Linked DNA regions of Homo sapiens. The protein of the gene in region 1 purifies or fractionates together with the protein of each later gene. This does not show direct contact. Each region holds a gene or a part of one and is shown in the gene's direction. Other genes may lie near its edges. The genes, in order: HLTF, RFC2, PPP2R2C, INAVA and ANAPC16.

Region 1 (3,946 bases):
ATTTTTAGTAGAGACGGGGTTTCACTGTGTTAGCCAGGAGAAACCCTTTTTTTATACTTTTATTTCATGAACAGAGGAAAGTGAAAGAAAACCAGAAAAGGGGGAGAAAACTAAATAGGCCCAAGAATTGTGTCTTTTCTCATATAAATTAAGTCATTTAAGAGGATGTATAACCTTTTTCTGCTGTTAAGCACACATAGATTCTTTTAAAAATGAAAAAAAAAACCAAATTGATTAATCAACAAATACTTATTTTGGGTGCTGATACATATGTCGGGGCCTGTATTAGGTATTAGAAGTAGTAGTAGGGGGAGGATGCCTATCATCATAGTGATTGGGAGGGTGGATTTTTCCCCAGAGTATTTGTGATGTTAGTATCTGACTTCAGGCAGAAAACTTTCAGTCAGAAAAAGATGAATGAATACTAGTGAAATGAAAGGACAAATGCAAAACACTGAAAGATCAGGGCAGTAGTAAAGTAACTCATCCATGTTCTTGTTAGGCCTGGAATCCTGCTGCTGAAGATCAGTGCTTTGACAGATGCCATAGACTTGGTCAGAAGCAAGAAGTTATCATCACAAAAGTGAGTTTTTAAACAAACTATTTTAAGACTAGGTTGATACGATTTTTACAATTAAGCAAGTAATGCATGAATATATTATTATGATTGAGTGTAATTATGCAGAGCAAAATATAAGTCACCTTTTTCCTCCTTCATCAATAATTTAATATATGCTGTTTAAGGGGCCTTTCTCTGCACCTACATTTATAGTTATGTGTACATCTCCTTAAAAACATTCTTTTAAAGATAAATGGAATTATACTTTATTCTACAACATATTTGTTTCCCTTAAAACTATACATTGGAGACTACCTCATAAGTACATTTAGATGAACACTTTTTTTAAATAGTGGTAAAATACAAAATTTACCATTTTGAAGTATACAGTTTAGATGCATTAAGTACATTCATGTTGTTGTGCAACAGCCATCACAATCATCCATCTCCAGAACTTTTTCATCATCTTAAACTGAAACTGTGTATCCATTAAATAATAACTTCCCATTCCTCTCCCCCCAGCCCCTGGCAACTACCATTCTACTTTCTTTCTCTGAATTTGACTACTCTACAAAACCATATAGATATATCGTAATATATTTAACCCATTAAGTTTTTTGCTAATAAAAACAGTGCCATAATGAGCATTATTATATATAAATCTTTTCACATAGATGCAAGTAATTCTTTGGGATAAGTTAAGAAAACTAGAATTCTGGATTTAGAATTTTTATCAACTATCGAGTTGGTTTCAAAATAGGATTTATATGAAAATTGTTAATTTATGCTTCTGTGGCCAAAAAAGTGCTGTTCTAATTTGCATTTACCTAAAACCTTGAGTATATTTCACATATCTTGTTTATTAACATTTTTTCTGTGAATTATTTATATCTTCTGTCCAGTTCTCATAGTTATGGTACAAATAGTTTTATAGTATAAAGGACTCCCTGATACAGTCTGACTTGAAATCTTTTGTTTATGTATGTTGAAAATGGTTTATCCCATACTCTTCCTTGTCTTTAAACTGCATTTTTTTGGTCATGAAAAAGCTTTAAAATTTTTATGATTTAAAACGTCAGCCTTTTTTATACGTTCTAGGTTTTAAGGTCTTACCTAGGACAGAAGGCTTTATTTTCACATTTTTTCAACTATTCTGTATTTACTTCTGGTTCTTTTGGAAGATTTTATTTTTTGTTTTATGATTTGTGACATGAGTCTAAGCTTATTATTTTATCAGATGAAGAACGATTTGTTCTGTCACATCATTTTTTTTCTTTGAAAATTCCAACTTTTTCCCTACTAGTATGAAATGTCACTTTCATCATAAACTAATTTATATATATTACTTGGGTCTTTTTCTAGACTATTCTGTTCCATTGATCTCTTTTCCTTTTCTTAGGGCAGTATTACTCTTATAACAACTATGGTTTCCTAAAGTAAGTTTTGATACCTGATAGGGTAAAATGTTCTGATGACCCTTTTTGAAAATTGTATTGGTGGTTATTATTATTGCTCTTGAATTGAACTTTAGATTTTAGTTATAAAATCCCATTTAAGATATCTTGAGATTTATTGAATTTATTATTACTTTCGAGAACTATCTTTCTTTATAAGTAACGAATGTTTCCATACAGGAACATAGTATCCTTTCTCCATTTATGTAGATCTTATATGTATTTCAGTAAAATTTTATTATATAGCTTTAGTTATTGCAGTAATTGGGTCTTCTTAAACAATGTTAAATAGTAGCAGATAGTGACCATTCTTGACTTGTTTCTGTTTTGTTGTAGAATACTTTTATTGTTTCACATTAAATATGTAAGGTTGAGACATTCATTCCTAGTTGGGGTATTTTAAAATCAAGTTTTTATCAGGAATGAGATGATCACGTTTTATTTTTCTCTTTGTTAGTGTTGTGAATTATACTAAAGATTCATTCTTGAATTTCTGGGAATAGTTTTTTGTTTTTTTTTTTTTTTTTTTTGAGACGTCGCTCTGTCACCCAGGCTGGAGTGCAGTGGCGCAATGTCGGCTTACTGCAAGCTCCGCCTCCCGGGTTCACACCATTCTCCTGCCTCAGCCTCCCGAGTAGCTGGGACTACAGGCGCCCACCACCATGCCCGGCTAACTTTTTCTATTTTTTAGTAGAGATGGCATTTCACCGTGTTAGCCAGGATGGTCTCGATCTCCTGACCTCATGATCTGCCCGCCTCGGCCTCCCAAAGTGCTGGGATTACAGGTGTGAGCCACCGTGCCCGGCCAGAATGGCCTTTTTAATACAATGCTGAAGTCATTTTGCCAGAGTTGCCTATATAGTTTGCTTTTTTTTTCTTTATTGCTTTGCTTATCTTGTGATCTGTAACTTCTATTCGTACAGCCATATTCTTTATATAAGAAAACCATATTGGGTAAGGAAAGCAAAGTTCAGTTCTATTAAATAGTTATTATAGTTTGGTGCAAAAGTAATTGCGGTTTTTGCCATTAGGCAAATCTTTCATTTAGTTTTTTTAATAAAGATTTTAAATACTATGCCTTAAAAACTACTTAACTTTTTTTTTTCTTTTTAAAGTTCATTGTAAAGGACTCTGTTGAAGAAAATATGCTGAAAATACAAAACAAAAAGAGAGAACTTGCAGCAGGAGCCTTTGGAACTAAAAAACCAAATGCTGACGAAATGAAACAAGCCAAAATTAATGAAATCAGAACATTAATTGACTTATAATTTGTGGGATTTTAGTAAGGTCAGTTTGATTGGATACTTAAGTTTTAGAAATGAGAAAAATACAGAGTTTTAGAAATGAGATCTAGAGAACACGTCTTCTAAAAGGGGCATATTTTATATTAGTGAAGAGGTATTACTGACACAATTTCTTCTATATATGAACCTATTTTTAATGAAACTTCAAATAGCAATAAGTTCCGTTATATACTGTGGCCTGAAATAATTTGAGAAAAAAGGTTACTTTGTTATTCAGCTTTTCATAATATCTATGCTGAGTATTTTCACGTATCTTCCAAGTACTCAGCTTTTTCGTATTTCAAATAAGGTCAGACCTTTTATACTTTTGACCAAATAGTTATTTTCTATGTTGGACACTTAGTTATTTACCAAAGCCTCCGATTTGTGATGCAGTGTTTGTAGTCCTTGTAAACAATATATACAGACTATACAAGAATTAATTTTATTGGGCTTTCAAAAACCATATTTGCATTCCAGAACCAAATCTTAAATGAGACCAAAGTCCAGGTTAGCACAGGTTTTTATTTTTCCTACAGCTACATTGAGATATAGTTCACATAAATGACTTGGAGTTTTATGTTCATGAAAAAATTAGGGATTATGTTAAGAGTACTATTTTTTCCATTTTAGTTAAGTAGTACTACACT
Region 2 (4,993 bases), on another chromosome or scaffold:
CTTGCATCAGCCTCCCAAAGTGCTTGGATTACAGACGTGAGCCACTACACTGGGATGTTCAACCAGTAAATATAATGCAAAATTCCAAAATGTGAAAAAAAAACCCAGATCTGAAATATTTCTGGTCCCAAGCATTAGGGATAAGGGATACTCAGCCTGTATATTTAAAGTGTATGGAAGGCCGGCCAGGCATGGTGGTTCATGCCTATAATCCCAGCACTTTGGGAGGCTGAGGCAGGTGGATCGCTTGAGTCCAGGAGTTTGAGACCAGCCTAGGTGACATAATGAAACCCCATCTCTGTATAAAAGTAAAAATAAAGTGTTCTGGAGGATGTGTATAAGTTAATATGCAAATACTATACCATTTCATATAAGGGACTTGAGCAAAAGTGAATTTTGGTGTCTGAGGAAGGGCCTAGCACCAGTCCCCAGGAACACCAAGGGACAGCTGCATATTGTTCACTCCTTGATTCTTCAGTTAGGGAAAATGTCTGGAGGATATTGGCATCTGAAGATTCATAGTCTGAGATTTTGCTTATTGATCAATTTCACCATCAGTAGCATTTAGAATGTTGCTATTGGTGTCTCTGCAGTTCTGTACTGTTCTGTTCTGTTCTTTTCTTTCTTTCTTTTTTTTTGAGACAGAGTCTTGCTCTGTCACCCAGGCTGGAGTGCAGTGGCACGATCTCGACTCACCATAACCTCTGCCTTCTGGGTTCAAGCGATTCTCGTGCCTCAGCCTCCCAAGTAGCCGGGACTACAGGCGTGCGCGGGCACGCCCAGGTAATTTTTGTATTTTTAGTAAAGATGGATTTTCGCCGTGTTGGCCAGGTTGATCTTAAACTGGCCTGGAGTGGTCCGCCCACCTTGGCCTCCTAAAGTGTTGGGATTACAGGTGTGAGCCACCATGCTTGGCCTACATTGCAGTTATTTTCTGATTCACCTAATAATTAGGAAGAGTCCTCCTCTCAATTTTTTTCTCTTTCCTGTTGTGGGTAGAGAATGAAAAATTTTGAATTCTTGGCTGTGGTTAGTGAAAGCTTACAAGATAACAAAGGTGGTATATCTGCACTTCTATTACATCTTTTGAAAGATAATATGGTATCTCAAGCAATGCAGTTAAAAAACTGAAGGATGAGGCTTTTTTTTTTTTTTGAGACGAATTATCGCCAGGCTGGGGTGCAGTGGCGTGATCCCGGCTCACTGAACCTGGGAGGCAGAGCTTGCAGTGAGCCAAGAGGGCCACTGCACTCCAGCCTGGATGACACAGCGAGACCCTGTCTGAAGAAAAAAAAAAAAAAAGTGTATATTTTCTTTGTTCTTTGAAAGACCTCCAAGAAAGAACAAATGCCATAAAATCTCAATCCTTATAAATAGTTACAATTGCCCCCCAAAAAAACTCAAAAATGGAAATTGGGCCTCACAGTCCCTGATATACCGATTGTTTAAAAGTCCTTGTGAAGGCAACTGAATTGGTCTCAGAAGGTGCCAGTAAAAACCTGTCATTCTTTCAGGGGCATTGACGTTGTGAGGAATAAAATTAAAATGTTTGCTCAACAAAAAGTCACTCTTCCCAAAGGCCGACATAAGATCATCATTCTGGATGAAGCAGACAGGTAGAGTGCTTTGCCAAATGTATTTTGACCTTGATCTCTAAATCTCTTTTTCGGTTTTATTCAATCAGGATAAAAAGCACTTTTATGGTAGATTTGCTTATCATATCTTCCACAAGCAATTTAATAGGGGCCTGCACCTTAAATCTTATCTTTATTAAGTAACTTACAAACATTTGTCTAAGATAGTCATTCATTTAATGTGCTGGTTTCAGCATCTCTTACGTTAATAATTTAAATGAGGGTTTTTGTTTTTTTTTTTTTTTGAGATGGAGTTTCTCTCTGTCACTCAGGCTGGAGTATAGTGGTGTGATCTCTGCTCACTGCAACCTCCGCCTCCCGGGTTCAGGCGGTTCCCTGGCCTCAGCCTCCCAAGTATCTGGGACTACAGGCATCTGCCGCCACACCCGGCTAATTTTTGTATTTGTATTTGTATTTGTATTTGTATTTATTTATTTATTTTTTTTTTGAGACAGAGTCTCGCTCTGTCTCCCAGGCTGGAGTGCAGTGGTGCGATTTCAGCTCACTGCAACCTCCGCCTCCTGGGTTCACGTGATTCTCCTGCCTCAGCCTCCCGAGTAGCTGAGACTACAGGCATGCACCACCACGCCCAGCTGATTTTTTGTATTTTTAGTAGAGAAGGGGTTTCACCATGTTAGCCAGGGTGGTCTCAATCTCCTGACCTCGTGATCCGCCCGCCTCAGCCTCCCAAAGTGCTGGGATTACAGGCATGAGCCACCGAGCCTGGCCTAATTTTTGTATTTTTAGTAGAGATGGGGTTTCGCCATGTTGGCCAGGCTGGTCTCGAACTCCTGACTTCAGGTGATCTACCCGCCTCGGCCTCCCAAAATGCTGGGATTATAGGTGTGAGCCACTGTGCCTGGCCTGTAAATTTTTTTATTGTGGTTAAATGGACATAATTAACCATAAATTTTTTTTTTTTTTTTTTTGTGAGACGGAGTCTTGCTCTGTCGCCCAGGCTGGAGTGCAGTGGCGCAATCTTGGCTCACTGCAAGCTCCACCTTCTGGGTTCACGCCATTCTTCTGCCTCAGCCTCTCGAGTAGCTGGGACTACAGGCGCCCTCCACCACGCCCAGCTAATTTTTTTGTATTTTTAGTAGAGACGGGGTTTCACTGTGTTAGCCAGGATGGTCTTGATCTCCTGGCCTCATGATCCGCCCGCCTCGGCCTCCCAAAGTGCTGGGATTATAGGTGTGAGCCACTGCGCCCGGCCCAAAATTTACCATTTTAACTATTTTGAAGTATACAGTTCAGTGGCATTTAGTACATTTGCAATGTTGTGCAACCATCACAACACTTCGGTTGGTATAAATGAAGAATCTGAGTCCAGGCTCGGTGGCTCATGCCTGTAATCCCAGCACTTTGGGAGGCCGAGGCAGGCGGATCACCTGAGGTCGGGAGATGGAGACCAACATGGAGAAACTTCGTCTCTACTAAAAATACAAAATTAGCCAGGTGTGGTGGCACATACCTGTAATCCCAGCTACTTGGGAGGCTGAGGCAGGAGAATTGCTTGAACCCCGGAGGCGAAGGTTGTGGTGAGCTGAGATCATGCCATTTGCACTGCAACCTGGGCAACAAGAGCGAAACTCCATCTCAAAAAAAAAAAAAAAATTGAAATGACATTAAGAAAAGAATATAGAACCCTAACCCTATAACGTTGTTTTTTGTTGTAGTTTTTGAGACAGGGTCTCACTATATCACTCAGACTAGAGTCCAATGGCACAGTCATAGCTCACTGCAACCTTGAACTCCTCGGCTGTAATGATCCTCCACCTCAGCCTCCCAAGTAGCGGAGACTACAGGCTTGTGCAACTGCAACCAGCTATTTTTTTTTTCACAGGGGCAGGATCTCACTATGTTACCCAGGCTGGTCTCAAACTCCTGGCCTCAAGTGATCTGTCTGCCTCGGCCTCCCAAAGTGCTAGGATTGCAGGCATGAGGTGCTGTGCCTGGCGAAATAAATTTTTTTTAGGGCCAGGTGCGGTGGCTCACACCTGTAATCCCAGCACTTTGGGAGGCCGAGGCGGGCAGATTGCTTGAGGTCAGGAGTTCGAAACCAGCCTGGCCAACGTGGAAACCCCGTCTCTACTAAAAGTATAAAAATTAGCCGGACATGGTGGCGCCCAGGCTGGAATGCAATGGTGCTTGTAATCCCAGGTACTAAGGAGTCCAAGGCAGGAGAATCGCTTGTACCCGGGAGACAGAGGTTGCAGTGAACTGAGATGGTGCCAGTGCACACCAGCCTGGGCAACAGAGCAAGACTCTGTTTCAAAAAAAAAATTTTTTTTTTTTAATGTGGCAGTAATTCATGTTCTTTGAAGAAAATTTAGAATATATTAATAGTTTGCTGCCTTTTTATTTATTTATTTTTTTGAGGTGGAGCCTCACTCTGTTGCCCAGGCTGGAGTGCAGTGGCATGATCTTGGCTCACTGCAACCTCTGCCTCCTGGATTCAAGTGATTCTCCTGCCTCAGCCTCACGAGTAGCTGGGACTACAGACGTGCGCCACCACGCCCAGACAATTTTTTTTTTTTTTTTTTTTTTGTATTTTTAGTAGAGTTGACGTTTTGCTGTGTTGGCCAGGCTGGTCTTGAACTCCTGACCTCAAGAGAGCCACCTGCCTCGGCCTCCCAATGTGCTGGGATTACAGGCATGAGCCACTATGCCTGGCCATTAATAACTTGCTTTTTTTCTTCTCTTTTTATATACTATCAATGTTTACACAGTTGAGATCATAATATATATAATTTTTGTATCCTGGTTTTTCCTTTTAATGTTGTAGGCATTGCTCTACATTATGATAATCTGGTAAACAGGCTTTTTTGTATTTTTTAAAATTTTTTGTAGAAATAGAGGTCTTACTTTGTTGCCCAGGCTGGTCTCGAACTCCTGGTCTCAAGCGGTCCTCCCGCATCAGCCTTTTGAGATGGGAGGATTGCTTGAGCCCAGGAGTTCGAGGCTGCAGTGAGCTATGATTCCACCATTGCACTGCAGCCTGGGTGACAGCAAGAACCTGTCTCTTTAAGAAAAAAAAAAGAATAAAAAAGGAAGAAAGAAAAGTTGGCAGCTGGTGTCATGATTGTTCTCCTGAATTTGTGTCATGAAGGACTGGAGAGAACCAATTCCCACAAGTGTGATGGCAGCCCTTGTAGATCGTGGTTTTCGTGAGTTTCACTTGAGGGTTGTTCTGATGCTGTAGGTACTAAATGCTGTTTGCACAGTCTTTGAGAGAGCGGCCTGCAGGTGTTAGCATTAGAGGGATGGCCTGCGTACTTCCAATGAGACCCTCATTTAGGACATTGGATGTGTCTTATGTCCTGGGTTTTTGTATAGGGAACGATTTGTGTCACATGGTC
Region 3 (4,993 bases), on another chromosome or scaffold:
CAGCAGGGCACAGGAACGGGGACGGCACAGTTCTGGAGGTCAGAGCAGTGCTATCCAATCCTTCATCCAGACACGAGATATTTACCGAGCACCTGCTGCATGCCGGGCACTGTTTTATCCCTGGGGACTGGACAAAGACTCCCTGCCCTTGTGCGGCCTGAATTCTATCAGGGAGCTATATGACCTTGAGGTCTGTCTTCTCACCAGGGCTCAGTCTCCCCATCTGTAAAATGGGAGTGAATCCTGCCTACAGGGTCTGGAGGTTTCTGTGAGGAGCAGGTGCAACGGTGTTGAAGGAGCCGTTCAGAGCTATGCATTGCTAACGTGCAGCCAAAGGATGCTGAGCACCTGCTGTGTGCTGGGACCTCATACGAAGGCTCACCTACGCCTTATCCCCACCTTGAGATGAACAAACCAAGGCCTGGCCTTGTGCCTGGTCCAGACCGAGTGCCAGTGTGTGCAGGGCATAGGGCTCAGGTGCTGCGGATGCAGAGAGCAGGATCGGAACAAGAAACAATAATAATCATTATAATAGGTAGAATTCTGGCCTCCCTAATGAAAAACACACTTTCACACTGTTGCATCCTGACTATATTTCATGCTCAGAGCACAGGGAAGGTCACAGATTTGAATGTCAGAATGTCAGACTTGAATCATGTTAAAGTCCTGCCTCTGACTCCTGACTGCTGTGCAGCCTTGGACAAGTTACTACACCTTCCTGAGCTTCACTTTCCCTTTGTAAAGGGAGAAATAATAACGACCTTTCATACAGGGTTGCTGGGATGATCAGTGATTTTGCTAATATCAAAAGTGCCCAGCACAGTGCTTGGGTTGTTGGAGGCATTGAACACATGGCATTGTTATTATTTATATGCCTTGTAACTGGAAGAGCCTGTGGGCAAACAGTGGATGCTAAAATTCAGTTTGCGGAAGAACCAGGTGCACAAACTCCTGTTCTACCTGTGGTTGAGTCTACACTCCCCCACCACACCCCAGCTGCTCTGATCTACCTCCTGTTCCTTGAGCAGGCCATTTTCTTTCTTGCTTCAGGGCGTTTGCAATGGCTGTTGCCTGGAATACCCACCTCCTGCCTTTCTCACCACTGACTCTTTCTCATCCTTTGGGCCCCATGTCCAATGTCATCTTTGCCCGTGGGAGCCCTGCTTGGGTTCCTGAGTCTCTTGTAAAATCTCAAACATCTTAGGAAGAGTTTAGGTTTTGTTAGTCATTCACATCTTGGTGTGAATTCGTCAGAGCAGGTTGGATTTTTTTTTTTTTTTTTTTTTTTTTTTTTGGTGGCAGGGCTGGGTGGCTTACTCTTGGCTGGGCTCAACTGCATTGAGGGTTATGGTGATGATTAGGTGTACCTGCAGGCCACCTGGGGGCACAGAGAACTTTGCATGAATGGGGTCAGGGTGTGGGGAGAGCAGTGCAGCTGATAGGGCACTGGGCCCTGGGCCCTGGACCCTGGAGGGTGCTAGGAAGTCTCCATCTAGTTAGACATTTCTCAAGAGCTGGATATGGTTCCAGGAAGGACTCTTCCTGGCTCTGTTCTTTCTCTTTTTGCGGCAGGCCTCAGTACTTAGCTTTAGAGTGAGTTGAATAAGCACTTCCAGACTAGACTGAACTTACAAAACCCATCCATCCTTCCTTTGCTTAGCACCATTTGCCAAGCACATCCTGCCCTGGGCAGCAGTGATGACCAAGACACAGGAGCTCAGCCAAGGGGAGGTGGTTCAGGCTGACCAGGTAGATCCTGGCAGTGACTGGGTCTTTCTGGGGAGCAACAGTCACTCTCATGTGCCTGACAGGTAAGGCACTTCCGGAGCACACTTTTCAGCTGAGGCCAGAGGCACAGCTTCCCCTTGTTTGAGCATCTCAGCCATCACACACTGTTGGACACTCATGCTTTTTGCATCTGCATAAAGGATGTACCCATGTTTTCCTAACTCCCATCCCTGGATGTCCTGTGTGATTTCAGAGTAGTCTGTTTATTCCCACAGAGTTGTCCTGATTTTATAGTTGAGGAAGTGAAGGATGCTTGGGAATTGCTAAGGTCATCATGGGGTCCTGAGGCTGTCTGAACGCAGCAGGCAGGCAGGTTTTCCTGCATGGAATTGTCTGCAGGTTTTGAACTGGTTGTGCCCTGGATACCATCTACTTTCTGCCCAGGAAACCACACTGAAGAGGGGATGCTGCTTGTGGGAGACTCAGCATTCAGTGAAATCTGCACCCTTATGGTGGACGTTGCAGCTGATCTCCACAACAGTTAGTCTCTCTTCTTCCAAGGAGAACACATATGGTTCCTAGTAAGAGATCTCAGGCCATAGCTGGATGTGATCAGTGCAAGGATGATCTCATTCCCCTTGCAGTGACTGGTTCCAGAATGGATGTGGGAGTCAGTTCTGGAGGTTGAGTGGAAAGTAGGGAGAACCACAGGTAGTTGGTCCCTCTCTTGTGATGGGAACAGGGAAACCTTGTGGTGGCTGGCAGCCATCTGACACCATGAGGGGAGCAAGTCTTAGGCCACCACCGTTGATGGCAGGGCAGAGAGTGAGTGAGATCCAGGACATAGAGGCCTGATGTCCAGGCCGCCTCTGAACTTCCAGTTACATGAGCTGTTACTTTTCCTTTTCGTTGTGCACTTTCAAGTCTCCGTTACTTGCAGCCCATAGCACCCCAACTCGTACAGCCCTGACTGCTTATCAAGAAAACCAGGAGGCTGATCTGTAACCCACAGCTAAGACTCGAGATACATAAAACCCAGAGGGATTTTTGTTTGCTTTCTGTTTTGAGAACCCTCTTTCATTTCACTCAAGTCAAGGTTGCCAATTTCTGGTTTTCCCTCCTCAGTCCTATTGAGGAGGTATTTTTGGTCAGATAAGAGAGCCTGAGATCTGGCATCGGGAGATCTGGGTTCCTGGTGGGGTCTGACCCTGGGTCTGTAATATTGGGCAGGTCACACGGTCTCTCTGAGCCTCAGTTTATTCTTAATAGATCAGTAAGTGATGATGTCTATTCTTTAGGGGCCAGAGTTAGACTAGCCCTTAGAACTGTCATCAGACTGGCTAGCCTAACTTCCACCCCAACCTATGGGGAAACTGAGGCTAAGAGGGGGGACATTAGTGGTGGCACAGAGGGAGATTAGGGAGAGTCAGCCTTTGACTTTTGAAAATCAAGATGTGGACTGTTCAGATTCTGTGTTCCTTTCGCTTCTGTTTGGAAACGCCACTTACATAAGCTTCCCTTGGGCTTCACAGCGAGTGTGGGCTCCATTTCAGTGCTGGGGTGCCCTCCATCAAATCACATCACTTTCTGAGCCTCAGTTTCCCTGCACTGCCTGGTGCCCTGGGTTGTCATGAGGCTGTAAGGAGCCAAGGGCATGTGGACTCTGAAGTTCTACACGTGTAAAAGGCGACTGCTGTCAATTTCCCCAAATTGTAGTGTAGGCCAACTCCCACGCCCCTGCTGTAAGCAATGTGCTCCTTTCTTTTTAATCAACCCGAACTTAAAGCTTGGCGCAGTCACAGAGCACGGTTTTTCTCATTTTCTTTCTGGAAGATGAAAATCAAATTCTAATAAAATTTTTCCACTCCATCTCCTGACTGTTGTCATTTGCTACACTTTTTAGTGTTTATCCTTAAAGCTTGCAGAGCTAAGGGATGTTTGGTAAGAAGTGTTTAGGCCTTGAGACTGGAAGAGCCGCTGTATGAAGCGCTAGGCTCCATGGAGAGTGTGATGGGGAGTAAGAGAAGGAGAGTGAACTCCTGTGAGTCCACCAAGCAGAGGGACATACTCTCAGCAACTGGGGTATTTCCTTCCAGTCTTTTTTTAATGCCCATGTCTGTTTTTAATGAAAACTGTAATCTGTCTGTATCAACAATTTTGAAGGCTACTTTTCTAGTTTGGCATGAGATTATAGGAATTTTCCAGGGCTTTGCTCCAGGGCTGGCTTCATGGATATGCAACCTGTGTGGTCATCTAGGTCCCCACACTCAGAAGGACCTGTGCTTGGGTTCATGTTCTGCTGTTACTATCTTGAAATTTTTAAGAATTTCACTTTGGATCCTGTGTTTTGTAAGCGAAATCTGATGGGACGGGGGAGCCTGGGAATGAGCAGAGGGGTACGTGTGGCAGGCGAGTCTGTGGTTACACATATTGGCTCCCACAGCACGCTACCCTGTGTTCACTTGAGCGTCTGAGCCCCATGCACAGTGGACAGCTCATGCACCTTCTCAGTGCGTCTGTAGTTTCACAGGCAGGGGCCATGCTTTCAAATAATGCTCCAAGGCATTGATGTTCTCATGCAGTGACTTCTAAGAAACATGAATGACGCAGGAACCCTATGGTGTCCTTTCTTAACGTGTGTTACGTGCCCATATTTGCCAATCGCTGACACTGAAAATGATTACACAGAAGGGAAGGGAAAAAGAGGGCACCTATAGTTCCTTTTCCTCCTAGTCCTTCCTTGTTTATTATTGAACCAAGGGTAGAGGGTGTTGGAAGAATGTACACATATCCAGAAATGAAATAAGAACAGTTAAGTTAGTTTCCTCTGCTCTGGTAAGAACAAAATCCATATGCGAAATATAACTTGTGCATTTTGGTGAGTCTACATTCCAGTTACGTGCTCTTATGTTTGCATTTAAAATTGGAGGTGCACACTAGAATGGTGAGTGATAAAATGCACGCTAAGAGTTTAAGCTTTTTTTTTTTTAAATTTGAATTGACATTAAATAGCAAATAACACCATGACAAAATATGGAAGGCATGAAAAGGTTTTGTATCTTAGCACCTTTAATGATGCTTTTCCTTTGCTTTTTGAATAAGAGGCTCTGCATTTTCATTTTTCCCTGTGCCCCACGAATTATAGGGTTGGCCCTGCTCTGCTGGAACTCTGGGTAGGGTGAACTCCTTGGCCCTGCCTTCTACCTCCTTGGCTTTCGTGATTGGTGGAAATGGTGAGAGCCTGCCATCCATTGGGCAGCTCTTC
Region 4 (3,665 bases), on another chromosome or scaffold:
CTGCGGAGATCGCCTGATGGGGCCCCTGTGCAAGTCTTTGTACCTGAAAAAGGAGAGATCATCAGCCAGGTGTAACTCTGCGCCCCACGCTGGAAAAAACTGTTTCATAGAGGGGCTGGGCTGAGACCCCCCCACCCCTGAGTGCCTCTTTCAGCTCCCCCATCCCCATCGCAGGCCGATGACCTGGAGCTGAGACCTTTTATTATTTTTTTTTTACACGACTTTTTTCAGAAGCCCTGACCTAAGGATTTATATATGTGGATTGTCCTCAATACCCCTGTGATATGATTATGTTTTATCCCCCAGAGTTTGGCCTACTGGACTTAAGGCCTTGCCTGTCTGACTGACAGCCTCTATCTCCTTATATAAGACAAGTGGCAGGGGACGAGTGAAGCAGAGTGAGCCACCTTGGGAGTTCTCCAACGCTCTGTGCTCTGGTTCTAAGAAATTCCCTGGGGAACTGCCCCTGGCCCTCCTGTCCCACTATTGCTGGAGGCTGGACATGGTACATACTCATGCACATGACTCTCCCCCATTTCCCAGGTCTCTGGGTACCCCAGCCTGGGCTGGGGGAGAATCTCTTCCCCCTTTTCTAATGTGCTCTGTGATGCACACACCAAGTGGTAGGTCAAAGGTCAGTATATCCCGGTGGTGTATTGTCTTGCTAGACCCTGCTATTTTCCTGACCCCCTAAATCCTCTTTAGGGACCCAGTCACTATACCCTGTCTATGCCCTGTGGGCTCCCAGACCCCTGAGCTTTGAGTCAGTGGCATCACAGTTTGTAGCCTCAGGGGGTCTGGCTGGGGGCTGGTCCATGCTTGTGGTTAGTGGACAGCAGCCACCCTTTGACAGCTACCTCTGGGCATCTCAAGGGCTTGCAGCCCCACTGCTCCTTCTAACATTTTGTTTGTTTTTGAGATGGAGTCTCGCTCTGTCGCCCAGGCTGGAATGCTGTAGCAAGATTTCGGCTCACTGCAACCCCCGTCTCCCGGGTTCAAGCGAATCTCCTGCCTCAGCCTTCCGAGTAGCTGGGATTACAGGCAAGCACCACCATGCCTGCTAATTTTTTATTTTTAGTAGAGATGGGGTTTCATCATGTTGGCCAGGCTGGTCTCGAACTCCTGACCTCAAGTGATCCACCTGCCTTGGCCTTTCAAAGTGCTGGGATTACAGGCATGAGCCACCGCACCTGGCCCTTCTAACGTTTTTTCATCATAGTCCCAAAAACCAATACTTTACAAGTGGTTTTGGAAAGGCACCACTTTTGTGGCATGTTCTGGTTGGGAGAGGGAGTCACAGTTCCTACTCCCCCCACCAGCTATGCTTCTGCTCTGAGAAGGTGGTTATTTATACAAACATGGACATACTCACTCCCAAGGGCTGATGAGATGCTGAATTTTCTTTGGGGGCATTCATTAATTGTCCCAGCTGCAGCGACTGGAGCAAGTCTGGAAGCTGCCTGTGCTAAGACCACCCAGCTGTCCCTGGGTTCTCATCCTAGGGCCTTCTTTGCTTCCAGGTCAGGGGACCTGCTTCAATGAGAAAGCAACTGAATTGAGGCTAGGAGAGGTAGGGAGAGCTGAGTTCTGACTTCACCTGTGCAGAACTCTCTGCCCCCATGTTACCTGGACTGGAACAGACTGTGAATATAGCAGAAGGTTCCAAGAACTCTGGTGTCTGACCTAGAAGAGGCACAGTTCTCTCTACTGGAAAGAAAACGATGTAGCCGATTGCACAAGGGTGCCAAGGGAAGACCCAGGATGGCCCATCAAAGGAACCTGGGGGAGGATGCAGGAGGCTGAAGGGATGCACCTGGCATTTCTCTCACTGTGCTCTTACCGCATCAGCAACCCCCAACTTTTGGGCCTACTCTGCCCCCCATGCGTGAATACCCTGCTTGGATGCTGTGCTTTTCCGGTTTGTCTCTAAGCCCCTTTCTCCAGGGCATGTTGGTTTCCCTGGCCTCTCAGTGTCCTAACTGGAGCCCAGAGTGCCTTGTTCTGAGCCAGGAGACGGCTGAGCACTGGCCCTCCACACCTAAGCGTCCTTTACATTAACTTATTGGTCTTGTATAACACCTGGTGCCATTGCCAAGTGGCTGTGTCCTCAGCTACAGAGCTGGAATTGTGTGGGGTTTAGTGCTAAATACTTCAATAAAGTCTGTTTTTTGTGATTGGCTGAGCTGGGGATGAGGGATTTTTTATTTTTATTTATTTTTATTTTTTGGTGTGTGTGTGTGTGTGTGTGTGTGTGTGTGTGCGCGCGCGCGCGCGCCAGGTTTCCCCGAGCAGAGGCTGAGCCCGGCCCCCTGGGCTGCCCGCCAAGGTGGCCAAGTTGCCCGGCCCCTCCAGCTGGTCTGGCCAGGTCCCTGGGGAGCTGGTGTGATGGGTTGGGTGGTAGAGGGAGGCTCTCAGATTCTCTGCTTCCGGGGCAGGGTGGAAGCCAGCACAACCCCTGTCAAGGCTCCTTACAGCCTCTTCAGCTTGAGGAGCTGGCCTGTGGGAGTCACTTCCCCAAGGACAGGGCACTGGCCAGGCAGAGGGTAGAGATGGGTGGCTCAGCGCCTCCAAGCCATTCCTGGAGCTTTGACTGCCCGGAGCCCAGGCTCATGAGAAACAGCCCCTTCCCCATACCTGGAAGACTGGGACCCCTCCTTGGGGTGGTGAGGAGGCGGGGCTCTCCGCAGGCCCCTCCCCCATCGGCAAGAGTGCCCACAGCCCCTCCGCTGCCTGGGGTCCCACTGAGGCCAGGGGCGGGGAGCGCCACCTTGGACACTTCCGTGCTTGCCCTGCAGGGACCGCTCCAGGGCCCCGGAGCACAGCGCCCCCTGGAGAGGCTGTGCCCGGACCTGAGGCGCCGGCGTGTCAGGTAAAGGGGTCCCCCTTCCCGCCAGTTCCCTCCACAGCCAAGGAAGGGGCGGGGAAGGGCCCCGGCCCTCGCTGCCCAAGGGGCGCCTCCAGCCTTGCCTGGGTGCGGCCCTGGGGGCCGCGGGGATCTGTGGGCCTCAGGGGTCTGGGGCACTCCATTCTTGGGGAAGGTAGGGGAGGGGAGACGGCTCCAGGGTCTCTGGAGAAGTTGTGGGGTATCCTGATCTCAGACCTGAGCGCTTCGACCTATTATTTGTGGGGAATGGGGCGCTGGATTCTGTATTTTAGACGATGGTGAGTTAGGCCCGGGGAAAACAGGGTGAGCAAGTTCCCAGGGGATGACCTGTCCAAGGGGCAGCTCCCAACAACAGGACAGAGACCAGCTAAGAGGGGGGATACAAAAGAGACGGACACAGGGGCAGAGCAAGGCCCTTTAAGGCAGTGAGCGATGGGACGCGCCCGTTTGGGGACCCGAAGTGCAGGGCGGTGAGAGAACCAGGTTGCACAGCAGTTTCTTCCTGGTCCACCAGCAGGCTTCCCTGGGCCATGTCTGGGAGGGGCAGACATGTGGGGGCTCTTAGCTCCCCTACCATAGGGCAGAAGTAAGGTTATGAATTAGGGGGTGGGGACAGAAGCCTCTGGGAAGAGGGGACCTCGGGATTTTAGCAGCAAGACTCCCAGAGGCAATTTGGCCTGGAGGCAGAGGGATGGCCACTGTGACCTAGGAGCCCACCTGTGAGTCTGAGATTCTCTATGCTGGAAGATCCCAGAATGGAAGACTACTAGGCAAATCAGGA
Region 5 (4,993 bases), on another chromosome or scaffold:
TTACCATCCTTATTTATTGGAGTTGGCTATGGTGTTAGATTTGGGTAATTTACTAAACTTTTCCCTGTTTATGACCTGTGCTTGTCCCTGACAAGGAAAGCTGATGTATTGCTACCTGCTGTGTTACAAAGGGTTTGATTACAGTTTCTAAATGGAAGAGATTGCCCCCAGCTGACTCCGTTCTGGAGCAATTCCAGGCTTTAGACTGGTACTGATACCACATCTAATAGGATGTGGCTAAGAAGCAATTGGACTTGGACGTTAATAGGGAGCTGCAAATCAGCAAAAGTGTGTTCCACAGGCATATAGTGTGGTGGAGTGAAATGCAGAGGTTCCTTTTTGAAAGTTTAGCTTATATCCTTTTGCTTTGAAGTTCATTACCAAGGAAAATATGCAAATATCACAACTTAACTATTTTATCCTAATGGTGCCTGTGATTAAATGCAAGTGAGAGGTGGCACTTTCAGGAGCTTCCATATACATCTTGGCCTGATCCTTATAGCCTATAATTCCCACTGCCTTGTGTGTAATCCTAAAGTTCAGGATCAAACCATCTGGGAGGTAAACTCTAATTGTCTATGCTTTCCTCTTTCTAAAATAAAATATGAGTTATAATTGGACTTTTTAAGCAAGAATATGAATAGGATAATGACTGCTGACATTCAAACCCCTTTTTTTTTTGAGACTGAGTTTGAATTTACAGAATGTAACACTGTCTCTGAAGAATACAAAAAGTATACATCCCAATAATTATACTTTCATTTTTTTCTTTTTCTCTTTTTTTTTTTTTTTTGATCACTTTGAAGATGATATTGGAAGGATGCCCTCTTGGTTATATATTCAAGCTCTTTGGATACAGTATCTATAGTTGTTTTTTTTTTTAATTGGTTATTGTGACTTCTGAAATAAGGTTTCCTTTGTGTGAAACTCAGCATGAGGCCAGAATGTGTTAGTCCTGTCTGCTTGCCATGTAATACCTGGCCAACACAACAACCCATGATTGATGGGTGAATGCTTGAGGCCTAGTAGTGCTAACGTGAAGTACTGCCTGAAAAAGGACAGCTGTGTCCTCTCTCCCCGTTTGTTTTAGGATTTTCGCAATAAGGTACATCCCCCAAATGGTTTCTGCTACCTTTTTAAAAATCAAATGTTTCTACGTGAGCTGTAAATTTTTGAGAATATGTTTTGCTGTATCAGCCCTTGCCTGACAAGGAATAACATGAACTAGCTTATGTTTCATGATCATCTTCCAAGTGCTGTGGCAACTGAGTTGGCCACTTCTTGTTGGCAGTTCTTGGCACCAGTACAATTCTAGGTTCTGAACTTGCACCATACTCTTATCGTCATCCAAATTGCAGTGTTTTGGTTCAGTTGGAAAATCAAGGTTACAGTTTGCGTTCACAGAATGAAATTTCCCAGCAGTGTTCTGTGATTGTCAGAGTGATGTAATTTGATATATTAAAAATCAACAATTTTTTCCTCAGCTTTGTTTTTTAGACTGAAAATGATTTGGAGTTTTGGTGAACCTTTATATTTTGACACTACAGGAGCCAGCCACAAGGCCAAATGTGTCAGCTGCCAGTGTTTGCTTGACATACAGGAGAACATTAAGGAACTCTCAGGTTGGGAGGAGGGAAGTGTTGACCAGGACATCAGACGGAGGTTTCTTGTTTTTGTTTTTTTAAACACTATTTTTAAACTCTTAAGTAGAGGGACTATTTTAATATTCTAGGTATAGAATAAATAGCTTTTATAACAGTCTTAGTTCTAAATGAAGCAGAACCCGTCTTTGTAAACACTGAGAACTAGACCCTGAATGTACAAGCAGGGAAAAGAATAGACAAGTTTACTTGGTTTATCAGAAGCCATAAAACCTTTAGAGCAGATTAAAACCTTTTCTCCTTTTGTTTGTAGATGGCTCTGAGAGATTCCTCTGCGAATCTGTTTTTAGCTATCAAGTGGCATCCACGCTTAAACAGGTGAAACATGGTAAGCACATGAGTGTTGCGTACTTGACTGTGAGAATAAATTTGCTAGGGGGTGGATGAGGCTGTGACAAAAATCCCCAAACTCAGCAAGGCTATTTTAGTGGACTTCCTAAATTAAAGAACATTCTAGGTCTTAATCTAGTCATAATGTCCACATTGAGGCTTAAGGTTGGGGCCGAGTGCAGTGGCTCACGTTTGTAATCCCAGCACTTTGGGAGGCTGAGGCGGGTGGATCACTTGAGGTCAGGAGTTTGAGACCAGCCTGGCCAACATGGTGAAACTGCATCTCTACAAAGAAAAAATTAGTCAGGCATGGTGGCGCATACCTGTAGTCCCAGCTACTTGGGAGGCTGAGGTGGGAAGATCACTTGAGCCCGGGAGGTTGAGGCTGCAATGAGCCGGAATCACAGCACTGCACTCTAGCCTGTGCAACAGAGACCCTGTCTGAAAAACAAAAAAAGTTGGTCCTCCAGGGAGTCAGTGCTTCCTGCTCCTCTTGTGTTACTTTTTCCTCTCCTGTCTGAAACCTCCTTTTACTGTTGTCCTCCACTGGTTACCATCATCATCTTCAAGTATTTGTACGATACCTCCTGGTCTGTCTATACTCTAACATCCTGATAACACTTTTTCTGTTACATTAGGCCTCACCAGGCCTTCATTTCTGCATCAACAAACTGTGTTCCCCCTCCAGACCATTTCTCCATTGAAACTTTATGTAGGGGGAAAAGCTGTAATTGCCTCTAACCCTAGGATTTTAGTCCACAAATCACTATGGCATAGAGGATGAGTACTTTTTTTAGGAACAGAGCACATCCAGGCCGGGTGCAGTAGCTCATGCCTCTAATCCCAGCACGTTGGGAGGCTGAAGCAGGAAGACTGCTTGAGCCCAGGAGTTCAAGACTGACCTGGGCAACATGGTGAAACCCCATATCTAAAAAAAGAAAATACAAAAATTAGTGGAGAATGGTGGTGCATGCCTGTGGTCCCAGCTACGTGGGAGGCTGAGTTGGGACGATCGCTTCAGCCCAGGAGGCATACTCCAGCCTTGGTGACAGAGTGAGACCCTGTCTCTGGAAAAAAATAGGGCACATCCTGAAAATGTGATCATTTTATTTTAAAATGACTTTTATTTTTTGAGACGGAGTCTCTCACTGTCACCCGGGCTGGAGTGCAATGGCATGATCGCGGCTCACTGCAACCTTTGCCTCCTGGGTTCAAGTGATTCTCCTTCCTCAGCCTCACAAATAGCTGGGACTACAGGTGCACGCCACCACGCCCAGCTAATTTTTGTATTTTTAGTAGAGATGGGGTTTCACCATGTTGGCCAGGATGGTCTTGATCTCTTGACCTTGTGATCCGCCTGCCTTGGCATCCCAAAGTGCTTGGATTACAGGCATGAGCCACTGCGCCCAGCCTTTCTTCTTTTAACATTAGAAGAAACTTCCAACTTAAAAAAAAAAAAATAGGCCGGGCACGGTGGCTCATGCCTATAATCCCAACAATTTGGGAGGCTGACACGGGCGGATCACCTGAGGTCGGGAGTTCGAGACTGGCCTGACCAACATGGAGAAACCCCATCTCTACTAAAAATACAAAATTAGCCAGGCATGGTGGCATATGCCTGTAATTCCAGCTACTCGGGAGGCTGAGGCAGCAGAATCGCTTGGACCCAGGAGACAGAGGTTGCAGTGAGCTGAGATCACACCATTGCACTCCAGCCTGGGCAATAAGGGTGAAACTCTGTCTCAAAAAAAAAAAAAAAAAAAAAAAAAAATTAAGCTTCTGACCAGCATAGAATAAGACCCCATTATGAGAATTTTGAGGGTCGGGCACAGTGGCTCACGTCTGTAATCCCAGCACTTTGGGAGGCTGAGGCAGGCAGATCACCTGAGGTCAGGAGTTCGAGACTAGCCTGGCCAACATGGTGAAACCCCATCTCTACAAAAATAAAAAACTTAGCTGGGCACGATGGCGGGTGCCTGTAGTCCCAGCTACTCAGGAGGCTGAGGCGGGAGAATCACTTGAACCCACGAGGCAGAGGTTTCAGTGAGCCGAGATCGCGCCATTGCACTGCAGCCTGGGCAACAAAGCAAGACTCCATTCCCCACCCCCACCCCACCCCCCAAAAAAAGAGAGAGAATCTTGAGGAGAAAAAAAAATCCATCTAGAAATTTTTTTTTTTTGAGACGGATTCTCACTCTGTCACCAGGCTGGAATGCAGTGGCACGATCTCGGCTCACTGCAACCTCTGCCTCCAGGGTTCAAGCGATTCTCCTGCCTCAGCCTCCCGAGTAGCTGGGACTACAGGCGCATGCCACCACGTCCAGCTAATTTTTTTTGTATTTTTATAGAGATGGGGTTTCACCATATTGGCCAGGATGGTCTCGATCTCTTGACCTCGTGATCCGCCCGCCTCGGCCTCCCAAAGTGCTGGGATTATAGGCGTGATCCACCACACCCGGCCTAGAAATTATTTTTATACCAGTCATCATCTTGGTGGCTGGTGGCAGTCTCTTGGGTAATACGTTGTTGCATAATATTCTTTCCTTGACTCCTTACAGATCAGCAAGTTGCTCGGATGGAAAAACTAGCTGGTTTGGTAGAAGAGCTGGAGGCTGACGAGTGGCGGTTTAAGCCCATCGAGCAGCTGCTGGGATTCACCCCCTCTTCAGGTTGATACTGCCTGGATGGTCACCTCTGGTGCGCAGCAAGTGCAAAGCCAGTGGGGGACTTTCTCACAGCTTACATAGCCATCCAGAGATCCACAGCTACGTCACTGAATTGTTAATGCACATTTGTACTTGGTTTCTCTGTATCTATTCACAGGCAACAAATACTTATATGTGTGATCTTTCAGGGAATGTTTTGTTTATTTGTTTTTAAAAGTATTGGGAATCAGATTAAGACAATCAGTTTCAGAGAACCAGGAGGTTTGGGGTTAAGAGATACTCAAAAATTTTCACAAGCCAAGTAGGGCATATATCAGATTTGGCCAACTGAATGGC

What was found.
Region 2: the proteins of HLTF (region 1) and RFC2 purify together in Homo sapiens (affinity purification with mass spectrometry, with the first as the bait; one large-scale study listed by BioGRID). This does not show direct contact.
Region 3: the proteins of HLTF (region 1) and PPP2R2C purify together in Homo sapiens (co-immunoprecipitation; one large-scale study listed by IntAct). This does not show direct contact.
Region 4: the proteins of HLTF (region 1) and INAVA fractionate together in Homo sapiens (co-fractionation; one large-scale study listed by BioGRID). This does not show direct contact.
Region 5: the proteins of HLTF (region 1) and ANAPC16 purify together in Homo sapiens (affinity purification with mass spectrometry; one large-scale study listed by BioGRID and IntAct). This does not show direct contact.

The regions. Positions count from the first base shown.
Region 1 is NC_000003.12:149,031,555-149,035,500, reverse strand, and holds part of HLTF (helicase-like transcription factor), read left to right. Parts: intron 1-502; coding exon 503-583; intron 584-3,128; coding exon 3,129-3,281; 3' UTR 3,282-3,946. UniProt on the Homo sapiens protein: Has both helicase and E3 ubiquitin ligase activities. Possesses intrinsic ATP-dependent nucleosome-remodeling activity; This activity may be required for transcriptional activation or repression of specific target promoters.
Region 2 is NC_000007.14:74,243,285-74,248,277, reverse strand, and holds part of RFC2 (replication factor C subunit 2), read left to right. Parts: intron 1-1,514; coding exon 1,515-1,616; intron 1,617-4,993.
Region 3 is NC_000004.12:6,465,379-6,470,371, reverse strand, and holds part of PPP2R2C (protein phosphatase 2, regulatory subunit B, gamma), read left to right. Parts: intron 1-4,993. UniProt on the Homo sapiens protein: The B regulatory subunit might modulate substrate selectivity and catalytic activity, and might also direct the localization of the catalytic enzyme to a particular subcellular compartment.
Region 4 is NC_000001.11:200,913,555-200,917,219, forward strand, and holds the end of INAVA (innate immunity activator protein), read left to right. Parts: coding exon 1-75; 3' UTR 76-2,188; downstream 2,189-3,665. UniProt on the Homo sapiens protein: Expressed in peripheral macrophages and intestinal myeloid-derived cells, is required for optimal PRR (pattern recognition receptor)-induced signaling, cytokine secretion, and bacterial clearance.
Region 5 is NC_000010.11:72,228,452-72,233,444, forward strand, and holds part of ANAPC16 (anaphase-promoting complex subunit 16), read left to right. Parts: intron 1-1,914; coding exon 1,915-1,989; intron 1,990-4,549; coding exon 4,550-4,665; 3' UTR 4,666-4,993. UniProt on the Homo sapiens protein: Component of the anaphase promoting complex/cyclosome (APC/C), a cell cycle-regulated E3 ubiquitin ligase that controls progression through mitosis and the G1 phase of the cell cycle.